Regions from separate parts of the Homo sapiens genome. Here region 1 is linked to region 2. Evidence: fine-mapped expression QTL. Tissue or cell type: whole blood. Region 2 holds a variant in brackets; the other region holds the start of a gene. All regions are shown on one strand. Distances are from middle to middle.

What was found. PIP is the estimated chance that this variant, and not a neighbour inherited with it, causes the effect.
Region 1: it holds the start of USO1, and the variant in region 2 is fine-mapped to the expression of USO1 in whole blood (TOPMed, PIP above 0.99).

Annotation. Positions count from the first base shown.
Region 1 is chr4:75,721,039-75,727,294 of GRCh38, reverse strand. It overlaps USO1 (USO1 vesicle transport factor), which reads right to left and starts at 2,718. Exons shown (of 24, transcript NM_003715.4): 1 at 2,410-2,718. The coding sequence starts at 2,475. It also overlaps a transcript of G3BP2 not described here. RefSeq lists silencers at 2,250-2,427, 2,762-2,931 and enhancers at 2,512-2,591, 1,688-2,607, 2,608-3,528.
Region 2 is chr4:75,796,151-75,802,547 of GRCh38, reverse strand. USO1 (USO1 vesicle transport factor) reads right to left here. Exons shown (of 24, transcript NM_003715.4): 14 at 2,816-2,926; 15 at 2,079-2,197; 16 at 1,749-1,930; 17 at 1,348-1,469. Among named protein-coding and RNA genes, the nearest start is that of USO1, 75 kb to the right of the region's middle. The variant A/G (reference allele first, on the strand shown) is at 2,934.

The sequences.
Region 1 (6,256 bases), 75 kb after region 2:
AAAACTATGTTGTTCCATCCACAGTGGCAAGATCAAAATGTTCTAGCTCCAACTCTTCAACCTTGTGCAAGCTACTTTAGTGCTCTGTGACTATAAAATGAAGAGGCTCTATCTGGGACTTTCTAGCTTTAAAATCCTATACACTGTGAATTCTATTCCATCTTTTCTACAGAAGTCACTGTGACAAGGCCAATAATAACAAAAACAGGAAAGGGTATTCTTCGTTCAACCCACACATAGTAAAAATTACCTCTCATTATACATCTACTAAGTGCCAGGCTCTTTCTACTTATTTCACTTAATCTTCATTACATCCTAAAAAGCAGGCATTTTCCTCATTTTACTTAGAGGGTATTAGCTATCTCTTACATATCCAATCCAATCAGGGGTGGAAAGCCAGGATTCAAATCAAAGTCTAACTCCACAAAGCAAGCTGTAATAAACCATATTTCATAACCTGGTGCCACAAACACAAATATCAGACAAAAAAGTGGTGGGCTGTGATTATGGTATGACTCTGGTAATCTAGACAGAACATGATCTTCTAGTAGGGTAGCTCAGGCTGCCTTGTTGCCAAGTGGGAATGGATGAGTGAAGCCAAATGTGTGCGTGTGTTACAGTGAGAGACAGAAAAGTGATTTTCAAATGAAAGAAACAGATTTACCGGCTTTCATCTTATGCTTTAAACAATTCTAACCAGACCTGCGCAGTTATTTTTTTTTTTTTTGAGATGGAGTCTCTTCATGCTGCCCAGGCTAGTCTCAAACTCCTGGGCTCAAGCGATCCTCCTGGCTTAGCATCCCCTTAGCTGGGATTATAGGCCTGTGTCACTGCGACTAGCTGCAGTTAATTTTAGTAATACTATATAAAGTTCCCAAAAAGTATTGAAATACAGGCATGAGCAATAAAGTGAAGGCTTTGAAGTAAGGTACCTCTTGGTTGAATCCTGGCTCTATTATTAGCAGTGTGACATTGGTCAAGTTACTTCACCCCTTTTTTTTTTTTTTTTTTTTGAGACAGAGTTTCGCTCTTGTTGCCCAGGCTAGAGTGCAATGGCACGATCTCTGCTCACCGTAACCTCCGCCTCCCGAGTTCAAGCGATTCTCCTGCCTCAGCCTTCCGAGTGGCTGGGATTACAGGCATGTGCCACCACGGCCGGCTAATTCTGTATTTTTAGTAGAGACGGGGTTTCTCCATGTTGGTCAGGCTGGTCTCGAACTCCCGACCTCAGGTGATCCGCCGGCCTCAGCCTCCCAAAGTGCTGGGATTAGAGGCGTGAGCCACCGCGTCCGGCCTACTTCACCCCTCTCAGTCTCATTTTTTGACTTTTAAGGTGAGAATACTCTCACCTATCTTGCAGGGTAGTTAACGATTAAAGCATAATGTGGAATATAAAGAGCTCAGCACAGAACCTAGCACAAGGTAAGAGCCTGACAAATGAAAGCTACTATATTATCCCTCAGGATCCCATTAACAAAGTTAGCCATTAAAGTGTTATACTTAGTCTCTTTTATGTAGATCTAAAATTCTTCTCAAATAAAAAGTTTATTTCAAAAAGGCATACACCCTCGATTCCATTAAACACTAACCAAACTTCAAAATAAGTGTATTCTAAACCTAGAATCTAAGCAACTATTAAATAATGTTTTCAGCGGCTAACCATTTTTTTTTTTTTTTAAATAACGCCGCAAATCATGTCATTAGGAGTTCAGGCAGAAAGCGGTGGACGTGTCCCCAAAGCAGTTTGAGCGCTTAAGATCCCTACTACGTTCAAGGTAGCATTTGCCAAATGATATATATTTGGGTGAGCCCGAAAAGCCGGATCTGAACAAATAACACCAGGCAGAACGACCGCTCTTCCAGTTGATGGGACAGGAGCAGGTGGATTTGTCCTTCAAAGAATATCGTTTTATTCTTAGCCAAATGCTCTCACCAACAGCTGGGTTTTAAACCTTCTCGCAGTTTTCCCCAACGCCCCAGTTTCAGACTGCGAGGGAGGGAGCAGGACTTCAGGCTCCTCTCGGCCAGTGCAGACGAGCGAAAGAGAAAGAGGGAGGGGCCCACGGCCCCGAGGGGCGTGGGAGGCAGTTCGGGCCAGCTCGGCCGCGCATCCGTCCCTTCCCGTGCGGTACCACCTGCGGACCACTCTCCTAGCCCGAGCTTCAGGGCCTACAGAGCTGCGGGGCGCGGCCGCCGTCAGTCCGGCCGAACGGCAGCAATGGGGACTGAGCTGGGGGCGTGATTGAATAACTCTGGGATTTCAGGAGCGGAAGGAGGGCAAAGGGGGAGGCGGCATGTGGATGCCCCCTCCATGGTGGGACGCTGGAGGTGACCTTCGGGTCTCCGAGTGCTCCGTCCCCGTCCCTGCCCGGACCCCTTCCCAAGTCCCAGACCCGCTGCTCCTCTCACCGTCTCGGCTTCTGTGTGCTGGGGTCCGGCACTCTGACCCCCCATTACCCCGCGGAGGAAATTCATCTTGCCGTTCAGCCACCAGGTTTACCGGCCCCTCCGGAAAAAAAAGAAGACAACTTCCCCCGCCCTCCGCAGGGCCTGGGCCCCAATCCCGCACTCTACACACTCCTACTGCTGCCACCACCGCCTCCAACTCGGCGGCCACTCCAGCCCTCTAAGCCCGGAAACAGCCGCCAGCAGCGGCCAAGATGCGCATGCGCGGGGACGTGGCATTACGTGGCGGCTCGAAGGTTGAAGGCAAAAGGGGAGCGGAGGCGAGAGGAACCTCTTAGCTAGGTTCCGCCGAAGCCCCACCCACTGCGCAGACCCCGCCTCCCACCGCAGGGGCACGCCTCCTACCCCCACCCTTCGCGGATTGATCCTGCTGGCCGCAGCCACCCACGTGGTGGAAGCCCGGCCCTGCAGGCTGGAGAGGATTTGATTAGACTACGCGTTTCGACTTGCAGGGTGTTTAATCGTCGCCAAGCGGGACTTACTGCAAGCTATCAAATCTGAGGTCTTATTTTGTTGAGTCGAAAGTGAAATTTTCCTTTGGCCAACGTGACAGGTAAGGCTTCCTGGCGCCTGAGAGGGTTCGCTTGGTTTGACGGTTTACTGGTACCAGCATTGTGGCTTTCTGATCCCGGTAAATTGCATTTCTTTACAGGGCTTTGTTTGGTGGTAAAAAGGGTTACTAGACACCCCTCATTCCACTGCCACTGGAGGGCGCATTTCTCAGCTCTTGCTCTTCAAACCTGCTGAAAGGAATTCCTAGATCTAAACACCAGGTACACCTCTATTTTCAAGTGTCGTCAGGAGGAAACCCATCAAACCCTACATTTAGCTTACTAGAGAAATACATTGTTCTGCTGTGTCAGTTTGGCGAGTAACATAATGTTTCGTTATTAACTCTCAACCCCTGTGTTTTCAGTTTTTTTTTTTTTAACATGAAAAATTGTCATTTTCTCTAATTGGTATGCCTGTTCCTTTGGCAGTGAGGTTGTCAGTACACATGCTTCTGGAATAGTCTTGTAAATTTCTTGAGGCTAAAAAGCACAGGTCTAGTTAGCTAACTGACTCATGCACCTCTCCCCTTGGATTCCCCACAGGTCTCAGATTCAGCATTTAAAATTGAACTCGTCATCTTTCCCTGCCTCCCTTAAAGAAAAAAAGTCAATATGCTGCTTCTACTGTGTGCGTGCCGTGCTCAGTAGTACCACTGTCCAAATAATTGCCTAAGCTAGACAGAGGAAGCTGGGAAGAATCTTAGACTCTGGCTTTCCACCCACACATGTCCAATCAATAGTCATGTCCTATCATTTCTATTTATAGAATATTTCTCAAATAGGTGTTCTGCTCTCCATCCTCTGTGCCTGTGACATAGATTATGTTCTTCTCATCATTTCTCATTGAGATGACAGCAACAGCCTCCTAATTAGTTTGTCTGCATTCAGCCCTGGCTTCCTTCCAGTCCAATCTCCAGTCCATCCTTGGGTGAGACTAACAACAACAAAACATCTGTTCATGTCATTCCTCTTAAAATCCTCCAGTTGTTCCCCATTCTGTCCAGAATAAAGTGCAAACTCCTTAGTTTGTCATACAGGCCTGTTATGATTTAGCTCCTGCCTACTTTTTCAGCTCCTGCCTCCCCCACATACTCTGGGCATTTTTCTCAGACCTGGATATGCCCTTCCCTTCCTTTCTCTTCATCAAGCAAACTCCTGCTAATTCCTTAAGGCTCAACTCTGACATCATTCTTGAAAGCTTTCCCTAAAATGTAGGTACACATCTATATGTTAGCACTTTGCAGTTATTGATACTGTATATGGTGTACATTGAATAAATGCTTGCTAAACCAAACTGTTAAGGGCAGGACTATGTTATTCATTTTATATCTCTGTTGCTTACCACTGTCTCATAAAAGGTGATATTGATGGATAAATGAATAAATTATTGAAAGAATATATGAATATTATACTAAGAGGAGGTTCCCTTTTTTTAATCTGTAAAGTGAAATTGTAGGGAAGACATCATAAGCTATGTGTTTCCTAGTGCCAACATTTTAAGCCTGGGCAACTTGGAGAATGGTGGGGTCATACTGCCAAAAATACTGTGCGCTAAGCATTGTCCTCTGCTTTAAAGCTATACACTTGACATTTTACCGTAGACATTTTCCATGGGAGCATTTTGTTGCAGCCTAAAAAAAGTAACCAGTAAATTACTCAGCATTTTTGTTACTAAGAAATGCATGCAAAGAACTTCACTTAAGCCCCTAAGCCTCACCCCTCCCTGAACCTCACTTCACCTTGTCCCTGAAACTCACTCTACCCCATCATCAGGAATGAGGCTCATAGACGGAGTGGGCCACAAATGTCTATTACTCCTCTTATTTAATAATTAAAAAGAGTGCCTTGACATTTTAGCAAAGTTGTTTAAAGGCACCAGCCTTGTCAAATGTCCTGTTTTGTTTTAAACTTTGGTGGGTACAGTAGGTTACTGTACTTCAGTGAGTAAAGTAGGTTACTATACTTTCGTGAGTGTAGTAGTAACAGCTTACTATGAATTTTCCCTGCATTTGACCTGTTTTCTTCCCCAGCAGCATCCCCTGCACAGGAGTGATGGACAGTTGGGTGCAAAGGTGATGAAGGTGGGATCCCCGAGGCATTGTCACTACAGAACAACCATGAAATAGACTCCTTATTTCAGAGGAAGAGTTACATATTAATCCACTTCTACTGATTTTGTAGAGGGAGAAAAGTCAGGGACTGTGTTGTATTCCTGTTTGCATCCTTTAATCATCTAGTATAATTCCTTTAATATGGTAGATGCTCAGGAACTACCTGAGTTAATAAAGGAAGAGAAAACTTGAACAAATTGTGACGGCCTGACTTGCACTGTTAATACTTCTGGCTTTCATAAATCTAAGCATTCAGGATAAGAGTCCTATGAATCATTAAAATACATATAATCAAAATTAAGAGTGATCTTTTTCTAAACCAAACCTGACAATAGATCAACGAACAAAATTCATTGGTTTGAAATTCATTTTTTCAAATTGCTTTTTTCAGTGGCCCACTTAACTTTCTAGTGGAAAACTCGCAAAAACAACGAAATATAATTGCATAAGATTGTTTTTTAGTTGGGGTGGTAGTAAGGTGGAATGTTGTCTATGCCTGCTTGGGAGGATAAATATAAATGATCATTTGTATTTGAAATCTATCATATATAGGTTTTTATTTATTTATTATTTTGGTAGGTTATAAGCCCCTTCAGTATCGTATATAGGTTTTTAAAGACGTAGCTCATGGCTATAATCCCAGCACTTTGGGAGGCCAAGGTGGGAGGATCATTTAAGCTCAGGAGTTCAACACCAGCCTGGGCAATGTGGCAAAACCCTGTCTCTACAAAAAATAAAATATTAGCTGAGCATGGTGGCATGCGCCTGTATTCCCAGCCAGTAGTCCCACTTACTTGGGAGGGTGTGGGAGGATCGCTGGAGCCTGGGAGATCAAGGCTGCATTGAGCCATGATTGTGCCACTGCATTCCAGCTGGGAGGATGGAGTGAGACCCTGTCCCAAAAAAAAAAAAAAAAGACTAGTTGAGGCTGGGCGAGGTGGCTCACGCCTGTAATCCCAGCACTTTGGGAGGCTGAGGTGGACGGATCACCTGAAGTTGGGAGTTCCAGACCAGCCTGACCAACATGGAGAAACCCCGTTGTCTACTAAAAATACAAAATTAGCTCGGCGTGGTGGCACATACATCCTGGAACTCCTGGGTTCAAGAGCTCTTCCTGCCTCAGCCTCC
Region 2 (6,397 bases):
AAAGGATATAAACATTTTATAGTTCTAGATGCTTGTGGACTAATGCCAAATAGCATTTTAAATGGTAAGAATATTTAAAATGAACATTTCTAAGGAAGTCATTAGAGTAATTGTGTCAATCACTCTTTTCTTTTGCCAAATCAACTGTATTTGCAGCCCCAAGTATAGACTCTATATCACATTACAACTATTTGTTTTTTTCACTGTTCCAAAGATATTATTACATTTTAGCAACTGGAAATGGCTCCATCTTTGTACCCAGATATAGATGAAAAATCCTAATAACCATAGGTAGTTTGATGATTCAAATTTTACCATTCTAAGATTATAATTTATTGATTGATTTACTTTTAAACTGAAAAGCTTAGAATGAATGCTAAATATACCACAATATTTTCATTCTTTCTTAAAATTTTAATCTCAGTAGGCTGGGCGCGCTGGCTTATGCCTATAATCCCAGCATTTCGGAAGGCTGAGGCAGGGAAGGGAAGGGATCACCCGAGGTCAGGAGATCAACACCAGCCAACATGGTGAAACCTCATCTCTACTAAAAATATAAAAATTAGGCAGCGTGGTGGCACACGCCTATAATCCCAGCTACTTGCGAGGCTGAGGCAAGAGAATTGCTTGAACCTGGGAGGCGGAGGTTGCAGTGAGCCGAGACTGCGCCACTGCACTCCAGCCTGGGAAACAAGAGCAAGACTCTGTCTAAACAAAAAACAAACTAATCTCAGTAATGTAGATTGTGAGGAAGAAAATAAGATATAAACAGTTGTCAATTTAAAGGGTTCTATCTATGCTTTTACTTGCCACACCTGCCATAAACTGTGCACAATTAGTAGACAGGTGTGGAGAGCAGTAGAGGGAAGGGGATGAATCTGTCCCACAGGGTCTGCCACTATTGTATTTTTTTATGACACTGGAATTTTAACAACATTAATAACCTCATTTTTCAGCACTTTCTAGAATTCCAATCAAGGTAAATATCATAAGAAATTAAATGAGAGTAAAAGTCAAGAAAACATTTTGAAGGAATATAATGAAGGTTTAGGGTACTCAACACAATGCAAGTAATGAAAGTTCACTGGTATCCTGGAAAGAAAATGTCAACTGATGATTCCGCAATTGTAGTTTCATCTTTATCCACTCATCATTATCTAATAAATCAGCTGCATGGTGCTTAGCACATATTAAGCACTCTGTTTGTTGAATACTCAGATGCTTTGAAAAATGATGGGTTTTGCTTTCTATATCCTCTTTCATTTGAAATGTCAGAAAAAAAGGCTCCCTTAAAGCAGAAAGTGCCTATTGGTAATCAGAGGGTATATACAGTTCATTAGTACTTACCTGCTCTCGAATCATATTTTTGTAGTGAGTCACAATATTGTCATGCTGTTCTAATGTTTTTTTCACCTCTTCTTCTTTTTTATCTTCTTCACTGGACTTATAAATAGCCTTAGTTATAACACCTATAAAAGGAAGCTTATTTAAAATTTGTTTTAAATGTTTTAAATACTATTTTACTACTAAGACTTAGTAAAAACATATAACCTAACTCCATGATAGGTAAGAAATAATCTTTTCAATCCTACTGAAAGCCAAATGTCCTTCAATGGGCTACAGATCAAGAGCTAGGAAGAAAATATACCTTTAGAGTTACCATATAACCTGTATGCATCCAGAATATACATGTACAATATAAATATAATTACTTTCCATCAAATATCAATATAAATCTTCAGTCTTACCTTCAAGTTCTTTTACCAGCTTCGTAAACTCATGATCAAATATCATGTATTCTGGACTGGGAAAGTTTGGCTGGGGTTTCTGAGATGCTCTGGAATACAACTCATGTTTGCTAATAAATCCTAGTTTCTCTATGAAATTCTCTTTGCCAATCCTCTTCTCAATCAGTTGTTTTAGCTTCTCTCTACGGAGATAAGCATATTGAGATGCTTTAAAAAAAATAAAATCAAAACAAAACATAAAAGCTTGGTCTACATAATGCTTTGGCAAAAAAAAAAAAAAAGCATCATTATCTCTTGATGCCATTAGAAAACCATCTTCCCCTTACTTACTTCATGTAGCTCTCAAGTGAGTTATCATTGAAATAAATCGAAATGCCCAACAAAAGGGCACATAAGCCTTGGACCAACTGCTCTTCTTCTCCAAGATTTTCTGCAATTTGTCCTGTAAGCTGAAATCTTTGTTAAGGAGGCTAAGGATTGAAAATATCTAGTACATTTTGCAATTTGAATTTGACATACATTAATACTTCACATAAGAGTTCCCATAAGAAATTCCATATATAGGCTAGGTGTGGTGGCTCATGCCTGTAATCTCAGCACTTTGGGAGGCCAAGGTGGGTGGATCACCTGAGGTCAGGAGTTTGAGACCAGCCTGGCCAACATGTCTCTACTAAAAATACAAAATTAGCCGGGTTGTGGTTGCGCACACCTGTAATCCTAGCTACTCAGGAGGCTGAGTGAGGCAGGAGAATTGCTTGAACCTGGGAGGCGGAAGTTGCAGTGAGCCGAGATCGCGCCACTACACTCCAGCCTGGGCGACAGAGCAAGACTTCATTTCAAAAAAAAAAAAAAGAAATTTCATATATATATTCCAACCCGGCATAAAACAAACCACACACACACAACTTAAACAAGCATCATAACAACTTTAACAGTTTAAAAAGTTGCAACACAGATAAGATAGTGGAGAATTCAAATATTTTGGGCATAGAACTACTTCTAATTGAGGAGAAAAACTAAAAAAGATATAAATACTTACATGTACGTTACTAAAACATAAAGGATACAAATGGAACATTGGCTGAATTGTGAAGAAAATGCGTTACTGCAATGGGACAATTGCTTAGCCAGGTACAAAGCAACATTAATAATCCAACTCTTGTTTGTATTTTGCTTCCCTGCAAC[A/G]GATAAATTGGTAGAAATCTTTCCATTCATTTTATATTTTTCAAACTTAAAGTTGCCCTAAGATCCCTTCCATTTGCATGAAAAGAACTTTAACATCTTACAAGAGATGAGCCAGAAATCCAGTTTTAAAAAACTAAACAAGAGAATAAATTATTGTATGCACCACAGGCTGCACTTCCTAAAATGAACAGAGTGCAGAAATTAGAACTGATTCATGTTCAGAGGCATATACTGGGTTATTTAAAATATGATTAGTTTAAAAACCTTGTCTGCTAAGGAAAAAAATCAGTGTGGAGGCTTTAAAATAATCTATTAATCCCAAGACCCTTTACAATAAATTTGCCAAGCAAATTTATGATATTTCAGTCACAAGTTTAAAAACAAGTTCCTGATAAAAGGAAAATTCTACTTCCTTCAAAAAAAACCAAAAAACAAAAAAATCAAGAAAAATGCAAAAAATAATCCCCTGAATCATTTAGTCAAATTCCATGAGAGAATATATTCTCTAACAATAAATAAACCATACTACAAATTCAGTCATCACACACCAGATGAGAAATCACAAACATAATCAAGAGGAAGATTTAAATTAGCCAAGTGCCCCCAAACCATTAACAGCTGCCAAGTATAGTTAATAATGAAAATTAGCATATCCAGCAAAATTAGTTTTCAAAATTTTAATACAACACATTTACATCTCCTAGGTAGAATATTCTCTTAGTTCACAATATTGACAGTGCCCATATTTATATTCCTATAACCTGTATCTTTTTTTAAAAAAACAAAACAAAACTTGTTTGAAATAAAATAATGAAAATCAGAATAGTAATGCATCACTTTGGGGAAAGTCTCATAAAATGTCCGAAATATAATTCAAAGATCTAGACAAGGAATGAATTTAAAGTAATCATCACTGTGTTCCGAAAAATTTCTACCACCCAGACTATTCTAATTTCACAAACCTTGATGCCAATATCTTGACTCTTCTATAATCTATTTTTAGGTATATTTAATATTGAATTAAGTTCAAACAGGACCTCTTCAAATGATTTGCCAGGTAAGCACTGATACAAATTTAGTTTTTACATGATGCATTATTTTTACTGTTTCCTTGCCTCTACGTCATTACCATGCCCACAATATATCTTCAAGTCATCCATGTAAATTGGAAAGTTAAAAACCAGTCACTGCCAACTGACTATGTGCCACAGAAAACTTACAACTACTCGAGTTACAAATGCAAATGTTTTGTTCATCTACCTGGTTATATATAAGTTCATTATTACTTAGCATAACCATTTGCAGGTACCAAATATACCCACAATGTATATATAAGAACATCCTATCAAATCACTGGCTGATGTATGAGTAAAAAAAAACAGAGTAAGATTTAAATCAGAATCTTCTAAAAGCATGGCTTTTGGGGTCTAATTGAAGGATAAGAAGAGCAAAGTCAAATATAACCAGTTAAAAGACAGAATGAAACACTCCATTTATTACAGAGACAAAAAAAGATAAAGTACTCAGGAGTGAACCTAATCAAAATGGTATAAAATCTAAACAAGGAAAATTTTAAAACACTCCTAAAGAGCACAAAAGTGGACATAAACCAATAGAAAGCCACCATGTTCTTAGATAGGAGACTCAACATCACAAAGGTGTTAATTCTAAGTTAATTTATAAAATTAATGTGCCTGTAATCCCAGCACTTTGGGAGGCTGAGGTGCGTTGGATCACCTGAGGTCCAGAGTTCGAGACCAGCCTGACGAACATGGTGAAACACTGTCTCTACTAAAAATACAAAAATTAGCCAGGCGAGGTGGCGCGCGCCTGTAGTCCCAGCTACTCAGGAGGCTGAGGCAGGCGAATCACTTGAATCTGGGAGGTAGAGGTTGCAGTGAGCCGAGATCACAACACTGCGCTCCAGTCTGGGTGACAGAGTGAGACTCCATTTCAAAAAAAATAATAATTGTAAAATAAATTAAAAATAAATAAATGAATAAAATTAATGTGATTCAAATAAAAATTACTAAAAGGCTTTTTTTTTTTTTTTTGCTTCTGGAACAAAACAACATGATTCTGAAGATCATATGAAAAAAGTGAGATTAACTAGGGACACTGTAAAAAAAAAGAAAAAAGAGAGAATAATGGATCACGAACAAGCAGGAATCAAGAGACAGAATACAAAAATCCAGAAAAATGGGCCCATATACAAATGAGAATTTAATATATGAAAAAGTAGCATACAACTATCAGTGAGTTACAAATAGACTTAAAAGATTTTGGGACAACTGGAGAGCTATCTAGAAAAAGATCAGTGGATCTGTATCTCATACAGTTCGCTGAGAAAAACAGAACAAAGAATTAAATGAAAAAAAAAGAAACCAGAAAGTATAAGATAAACATTGAAGTATAATTCCTTATAAAGTCTTTTTTGGGGGGATTGGAGACCAGGTCTCGCTCTGTCTATCAGGCTGGAGTGCAGCAATCATAGCTCACTGCAGCCTTGAACTCCAAAGCTCAAGCGATGCCCCCACCTCAGCTTCCAAAGTGTTAACATATAGGTGTGAGCTACCATGCCTGGCCTAGTAAATTCCTTAAAATCTGAACATGGAAAGGCCTTTTCTAAGTATGACTTAAAATGCAGAAGCCATAAAAGATAAGTCTGAGAAAAAAAAAAATCCATAACAAAACACCAAGGTCAAAAGACAAATGACATACCAGAAAAAAAAAAAAAAATCTGTAACTCATATTAAAAACAAGGGTTAAGTATGTTAATATAAAATGGGCAGAGGATATAAATAAAAGGAAAAGTACACACCTCTTTTCAGAGCCCCTAGAGTGTGTGAACCATTGAGGAGATTTGAGAAAACAAATGGAGGCTAAAACTGTAATTTGAGAGCATTCTCGGGGGTAATTATAAACCACAGATTTTACACGATAAAAGAGAACTACAAACAAAATATTTGAAGCTGCGGGCTGGGCGCGGTGTCTCACACCTGTAATCCCAGCACTTTGGGAGGCCAGGTGGGTGGATCACCTGCGATCATCAGGAGTTCGAGACCAGCCTGGCCAACATGATGAAACCCTGTCTCTACTAAAAATACAAAAATTCGCTGGGTGTGGTGGTGCGCACCTGTAATCCCAGCTACTCAGGAGGCTGAGGCAGGAGAATCGCTTGAACCCAGAAGGCAGAGGTTGCGGTGAGCCAAGATCGTGCCATTGCACTCCAGTCTGGGCAACGGAGTGAGACTCCGTCTCAAAAAAAAAAAAGAGCATGATGGAACTTTCTGGGATTATGAAAACGTTCTACATCTAGTTTTGGGTGGTGGTTACAGAGATACACTCAAACACCAAAAATCATCACATGAAACACAGAAGGTCTGTGCATTTTATTGTATATAAATTAATACCTCAAAAAAAATTCCCTTTCAAATGACTGACATGTATACTTATAAAATACT